Linked DNA regions of Homo sapiens. The gene in region 1 interacts genetically with each later gene. Each region holds a gene or a part of one and is shown in the gene's direction. Other genes may lie near its edges.

The links.
Region 2: changes in FN3K (region 1) and PRKCA together harm fitness more than expected from each alone (negative genetic interaction), as found in Homo sapiens cells (one large-scale study listed by BioGRID).

The regions. Positions count from the first base shown.
Region 1 is NC_000017.11:82,745,482-82,748,841, forward strand, and holds part of FN3K (fructosamine-3-kinase), read left to right. Parts: intron 1-3,360. UniProt on the Homo sapiens protein: Fructosamine-3-kinase involved in protein deglycation by mediating phosphorylation of fructoselysine residues on glycated proteins, to generate fructoselysine-3 phosphate.
Region 2 is NC_000017.11:66,309,082-66,312,900, forward strand, and holds part of PRKCA (protein kinase C alpha type), read left to right. Parts: intron 1-3,819. UniProt on the Homo sapiens protein: Calcium-activated, phospholipid- and diacylglycerol (DAG)-dependent serine/threonine-protein kinase that is involved in positive and negative regulation of cell proliferation, apoptosis, differentiation, migration and adhesion, tumorigenesis, cardiac hypertrophy, angiogenesis, platelet function and inflammation, by directly phosphorylating targets such as RAF1, BCL2, CSPG4, TNNT2/CTNT, or activating signaling cascade involving MAPK1/3 (ERK1/2) and RAP1GAP.

The DNA.
Region 1 (3,360 bases):
CTTGCTTTTCCCCACACTCTCACTCAGCATAATCATGCTGATATTTATCCAAGTCTAAAATCCTTTGATATTCATCCGTGATACACATCCATGTTGCATGTGTCAAAAGCCCATTCCCCTGTACGGATCTAACACAGCCTGTTTATCCATTCACATGTGGATGGATTTCTGGATCATTTCCAGTTTTTGCTCATACAAATAAAGCCGCTGTGAACCTTTGTGTACAAATCTTGGTCTGGACAAATGCTTCCACTTATCTCGGGTAAATACCTAGGAGGGGGATGACTGTGTCATATGGTAGGTCCATATTTAGCTCTTTAAGAAACTACTGGCCGGGTGGGGTGGCTCACACTTGTAATCCCAGCACTTTGGGAGGCTGAGGCGGGTGGATCACAAGGTCAGGAGGTCGAGACCATCATGGCTAACACAGTGAAACCCCGTCTCTACTAAAAAATACAAAAAATTAACAGGGCATGGTGGCGGGCGCCTGTAGTCCCAGCTACTTGGGAGGCTGAGGCAGGAGAATGGCGTGAACTCGGGAGGTGGAGCTTGCAGTGAGCCGAGATCTCGCCACTGCACTCCAGCCTGGGCGACAGAGCAAGACTCCGTCTCAAAAAAAAAAAAAAAAAAACTACCAAACTCTTTTCCAAAGTGGTTGCACCATGTTGCATTCCCACCAGCAGCATATGGGAGTTCCAGTTCCTCCACATCCTTGTCAACACTTGAGATTTTTTGTTTTAAATTACAGCCATCCTAGTGGGCGTGAAATATTATCTCACTGAGGTTCTATTTTGCATTTCCATAATGACTGAAGATGTGGAGCATCTATTCGTGTGCCTGTTTGCTGACAAAATATCTTCTTTGGTGAACCATGTGTTCACTTATTTTGTCCAATTTGTGAATAGGGTTTTTTTTTTATTATTGAGTTTTGAGATTTCTTTGCGTATTTAGGATATGAGTGTTTTACCAGATATATGATTTGCGAATAGTGTCTCCTAGTTTGTTGTTTGTGTATTTTCTTGGAAGCGTCCTTCAGAGGCTGGGCATGGTGGCTCGCGCCTGTAATCCCAGCACTTTCGGAGGCCGAGGTGGGCAGATCACTTGAGGTCAGGAGTTCGAGACCAGCCTGGCCAACATGGTGAAACCCCATCTCTACTAAAAATACCAAAACATTAGCCAGGCATGGTGGCGGGCACCTGTAATTCCAGCTACTCGAAAGGCTGAGGCAGGAGAATTGCTTGAACCCGGGAGGCAGGGAGGTTGCAGTGAGCTGAGATCGTGCCATTGCACTCCACCTGGGCAACAAGAACAAAACTTGGTCTCAAAAAAAAAATTTCCTTATTATCCTTTTTATTGTTGTTGAGATGGAGTTTCACTCTGTTGAGCAGGCTAGAGTGCAGTGGTAAGATCTTGGCTCACTGCAACCCCTGCCTCCTGGGTTCAAGCGATTCTCCTGTCTCAGTCTCCCAAGCAGCTGGGACTACAGGCACCTGCCACCACGCCTGGCTAATTTTTGTATTTTTAGTAGAGATAGAGTTTCACCATCTTGGCCAGGATGGTCTCGAACTCCTGATCTTGTGATCTGCCTGCCTCGGCCTCCCAAAGTGCTGGGATTACAGGTGTGAGCCACCGCGCCTGGCCTCTTGCTTACTTTAGGTTTAATGTGCTCTTTTTCTGGTTGGTTAATGTAGCAGCTGAGGTCATTACTGTGAGATCTTTGCTAACACAGATGTTTAGTGCTACACATTTTCCCCAAGTACTGCTTTAGTGGCATCTCACAAATTATAAGTTGTGTTTTTGCTTTCATTCAATTGAAAACACTTTCTAATTTCCCTTTAGACATCTTTCTTAAACAGATTTTAGAACTGTGTTTAGTTTTAAAATATTTGAGGATTTCCCAGAATTTTTCCTATTGATTTTGTTTTGTTTTGCTTTTCTGAGACGGAGTCTTGCTCTGTCACCAGGCTGGAGTGCAATGGCACAATCTCAGCTCACTGCAACCTCTGCCTCTTGGTTTCAAGAGATTCTCCTGCCTCAGCCTCCCGAGTAGCTGGGACTACAGGCATGCACCATCACGCCCAGCTACTTTTTGTATTTTTAGTAGAAATGGGGTTTCACCATGTTGGTCAGGATGGTTTTGATCTCTTGACCTCGTGATCCACCCACCTCGGCCTCCCAAAGTGTTGGGATTATGGGCGTGAGCCACCAGGCCTGGCCTTCCTATTGATTTCTAATTGAATTTGATTATACTTTGCATGCTTAAATTCTTCTCAATTTATTGAGATCTGTTTGCATGGAGAGAGAAATCCTACTCTATTCCTCTTCTTATAGGCCACTAATCCTATTGGATTAATAATTCACCCTTACGATTTTATTTAACCCTAATTACCTCCTAGAGGCCCTTCCTCCAAATACAGGTATATTAGGGGTTAGGGCTTCAACGTAGGAACGGGGGTGGGCACCATTGAGTCAATAGCAGGATATGGGATTTATCTATTTTTCCTGCAGTTCTTTTACGTATTTTGAAGCTGTGTTATTAGAGGTGTAGGCATTTAGGATTATTATGTTCATTAGTCGACTCCCTTTGTGAAATGACTATATTTGATTTTCTTTGCTTTGAAATCTACTTTGTCTTGTATTAATGTAGCCACTCTAGCTTTCTTTTTTTTTTTCTTTTTTTTTTTGAGATAGAGTTTCACTCTTGTTGCCCAGGCTGGAGTGCAATGGCGCGATCTCGGCTCACTGCACCCTTTGCCTGTGGGTTCAAGCGATTCTCCTACGTCAGCCTCCCAAGTAGCTGGGACTACAGGCCCACGCCACCATGCCCGGCTAATTTTGTATTTTTAGTAGAGATGGAGTTTCCTTATGTTGCCTAGACTGGTCTTTAACTCCTGGGCTCAAGGGATCTGCCCACCTCAGCCTCCCAAAGTGCTGGGAATTGCAGGCGTGAGCCACTGTGCCTGGCCTCCAGCTTTCTTTTGACTAGTGTTAGCATGGTATATCTTTTCTATCCTTTCAAGCTTTTTTTTTTTTTAGTAGATAATGTCTTTTTGCACATAACTTATTGTTGGATTTGCTTTATTTTTCCAACCTGCCAATCTGTCATTTACCAAGAGTATTTATTTTTGACATTCGTATTTAATGTGCTTAGTCATATAGTTTTGAGTCTGTCATCTTGCAATTTGTTTTTTGTTTCATCTGCCCTTTGTTCTCTCTTTACCTGCCTTCCTCTGGGTTGAGTATTTTATGTTTCTGTCTTACCTCCTTTGTTGGCTTACTAGGTATCTTTGCTGGGTTTTGAATGGTCCCTCTAGGGTTTAGGCAGCACTTGGCTCCGAATTGCAACAGTGGCCTCTTTTC
Region 2 (3,819 bases), about 16 Mb from region 1:
TGCTTTGGTTAGTAGGTAAAATATCTGCAGCAAGCATAGTTTTTCTTTTTTTAACTAGAGGGGTGTGTATGCTCCCAGTGACTCACATATTCATGCAGTAAGTAATATAGCTTTAGATCCAAAATATTTATCTTCATTTTACTTAGTAAATGGTGAGTAGGTATTTGAAGACTAAAGAAATAAGTGAGTTTTAGTCCTTAAAACTGGGTTTGTAATTTATGCCATTTAGAGAATGGCATCTTACAAGCATGTGAAGTACTAAAGTTATTTCTACTTTCATTTATGTTGTATCTTGGGGAAGGGAAGGGCGTTTCTCTGGAGAGACTTATTGGCTTATTCTCATGTTCCCTTCATGGACTCTGTGCCATTCTTCTTTATATTGCAATATAGGTATACAATCCTGAAAACTGATATTACCAGGGCAAGTAACACAGGATCCCGTTGTCAGAATTTGCTGCCTGAAACGGTGAAACCAAGGGCCATTCTTCTGGGGAGGAGAAAGATGAGTGTGTAGTAGATTTCCAAGTGGGAAATACTTTTCTTAAGGTCCTCAGAGATAAAGACAAGCGTGTTCCTTCACAGCTCTGAAGTGACCCTTTTTACATGACTTGGAGTTGCCTTCTTATTTTTGGTTGAATGTTTTTTTGCTTGATGTACCCCTAGCACTCATTTCATCTCCATAAAACTAGCAGAGATCTAGTCCTTGCCCACTTTTTTTTTCCCCCGTCAGAGAAAGGAGAAGAAGACAGGAAGTAGATTTGTGTGGTATGGACATTGATGAAGTTGAGTTTCAAGTCTGGAAGGTCTGTTTCCAGTTGGTAGTTTCTGTCTTGCACTGGCTACTTCCAAAGTCAGTCATCAGAGAACAGAGCGATCCACTGTACTGCTCAAATGCACTCTTTCTCTGGGGCAGTGGAGCTGAAACAGTGTTATCCACTGCTTTCAGTACTGGAAAAGGGAAAGAGCCAACTCGATTTTTTTCCCCCTCCTTAGGCGGAGCAACACCCATGCACTTCTCTAATTACAGTGGTAGAAACAGCCTCTCAAAATGTGACCTGCCTATTTCAAATGCCAAACAGTTAACATAGTTTGTTTCATCTGCCTAACCTCCACTTGTTTTCTCTAATTTTTTTTTTTTTTTGCTATTCTTTGTCTTTTAATATCACAAATGAAAATGTGCTACAAACCTAGGCTCTTTGATGAGGTGAAGATACTCAAGAGACAGCGTGAGAATTAAGCTCTGTCAGTAACCATGACCAACAGGAGCCTGTTGTCCCTGAATGATCGTCACTGGATTTTGAGGGGTCTGCTGGGAAAGAATTTACATTTTTGTGCTTTCAATGATGCTACTAAAGTTGTTTTGAATCTTGAGTCATTTCCCTGCTAAGAACATAACACATATTGTACTTCATCTGTGACTTCAACTGAAGCTCTGCATTTTTCAGTGTTAAGGGTTAAAAAATCAGCTACTCTTCCCCTTTGATATTTTGTTTTGAAGGCCTGTTTCAGAGAAGGTATTTGCATTGGCTCATCTGAGCAGGGTGGTGATTTCTATTCCTTCTGTAAGAATGAAAGTTGGTGTTTAAGGGAAGAAAAAAAAGAATGAGTCTCCTCTTGGCTGTGTGAGCTGAGGGATTCCAGAAAACAAGACTACTTAAGGAAGGTGGCCTTTAAACAGAAAGGGGGCAGTAGCGAGTGAGTCACCAGCCTTTCAGAAAAGGGATGCGCCGTTGTCCTCATCCGCCACGGTGTTCTGAGAGCTGAGTTGTATGGACACCAAGTACCAGGAGATAGGAGACTGAGGTACAAGTTGGGTGGAATCATGAGGTAGGCCAGATTGAGCAGAGGATCTGTCTGTCCTCCCTATGGCCAACTTGAGCAGAGGATCTGTCCTCCCTATGTACTGCATTGACCGCTGCTTGCACTGTGTGGCCTCTGGCTGCCCGCTGGTTTTCAAAGTTAGTGCCAGGGTTTTCCATTATTCTGTCTTCAGGAGGGGTTCAGCCCTTGGTACCTCAGTTTTGATTGGTTACCCATCCCCAAATTGTAAGTTATGTTAATTAGAGATAAACTCTTGGAGGTTTAGTTCCAAAAAGATAGAATGCATGGAAGACTGAGTATAATTTGAAACCTAGAGTTTTTGTAGTAATGCCAGGTCAAAGCATTATCTCAGTCTCAAAGATGAAATGGTCAGTAATGCCTGAATTACAGAGAAAAGTGGTGGAGGTGGACAGTTAGAACTGCCTTTCTGTGGTTGGGTGCAGTGGCTCATGCCTGTCATCCCAGCACTTTGGAAGGTTGAGGCGGTCGAATTGCTTGAGCCCAGAACTTTAAGACCAGCCCGGGCAACATGGCAAAACCCCATCGCTACAAAAAATAGAAAAAGTAGCTGGGCATGGTGGTGCAGCACCCGTGGTCTCAGCTACTTGGGAAGCTGAGGTGGGAGGATCACTTGAGCCTGGGAGGTCGAGGATGCAATGAGGTGTGATCGTGCCACTGCATTCCAGCCTGGGCGACAGAGTGAGAGCCTGTCTCAAAAAACAAAACCAAACAATAACAAAAAATGCTATTTTTCTTTTCAACAGTGTTTTTCCTCCGTAAAACTGCATTAATACTTAGAAGTAGGGATGGTTAGATAAAACTAGTGTTGAGTGTTCCCATTTGGTGCTATATACTTGTTATAAAATGATTTCTGATTAATGACTTTCTGAATTGCTACTCTTTTACTTTATACGGTAAGTGAAAGTGTTTCGTTAATTTATTCACACATCAATCCTACCCCCGCCACCAGAAGCTGGGGTTGTAGCATATGGAGAGGCTATTTATCCTCATAGGTCGTGAAAGCCGAATAAATGTTTACTTTTGCAGATAAATCTGATGTTTGAGTTTCCTTTTCTTTATATTATTTTATTTTTTTGAGATGGAGTCTCGCTCTTGTCTCCCAGGCTGCGGTGCAATGGTGCAACTTTGGCTCACTGCAACCTCTGCCTCCTGGGTTCAAGCAATTCTTCTGCCTCAGCCTCCTGAATAGCTGGGATTACAGATGCATGCCACCATGCCCAGCTAATTTTTGTATTTTTAGTAGAGACGGAGTTTCACCATATTGGCCAGGCTGGTCTTGAACTCCAGACCTTAGGTGATCCTCCTGTTTCAGCCTCCCAAAGTGCTGGGATTACAGGCGTGGGCCACTGCACCCAACCAGAGTTTCCTTTTCTTTACATTTTTTGGTGGTTTCCTGCCCTCCGAGTATTTCACTCTCCTGGATGATACTATTGAAATTTAAGTTTTTAGACACATTAACTCCTCACTTGCTCAATTGTTTTTCTTCATGCAGATTCAGAGTATTCCATTTCCAAATAGCATTAGTTTCACAGCTGCCCTATCAGGATAAGTCCAACTCCTTAGCAAGACATTGGAAGACTCTTAAAGTCTCCTGCCTGACCTCTTCAGACTTACCTACAATGCTTTCCTTCTTCCTATCCCTGGGTCATTGTGAATAAGTTGCAGTTTCCCAGAAAGTGCTTGTTTCAATTCTTTCCTCAACCCCGTTTGCCCAGATGATATCTGTTTCACCTGTTAAGTCTTAGTCTAAGGTTTAGCTCTGGTCTTTCCCAATTGTCCTATTCTACATGTTCTTCCTATCGTAGGACCTTTTTTTTTTTTTTTTTTTTGTGAGACAGAGTGTCACTCTGTCACCCAGGCTGGAGTGTGCAGTGGCACAGTCTCACTTCACTGCAACCTTTGCCTCCTGGGCTCAAGAAATTCTCATGCCTTAGCCTCCTGAGTAGCCGGGATTACAGGCACATACCATGACACCCA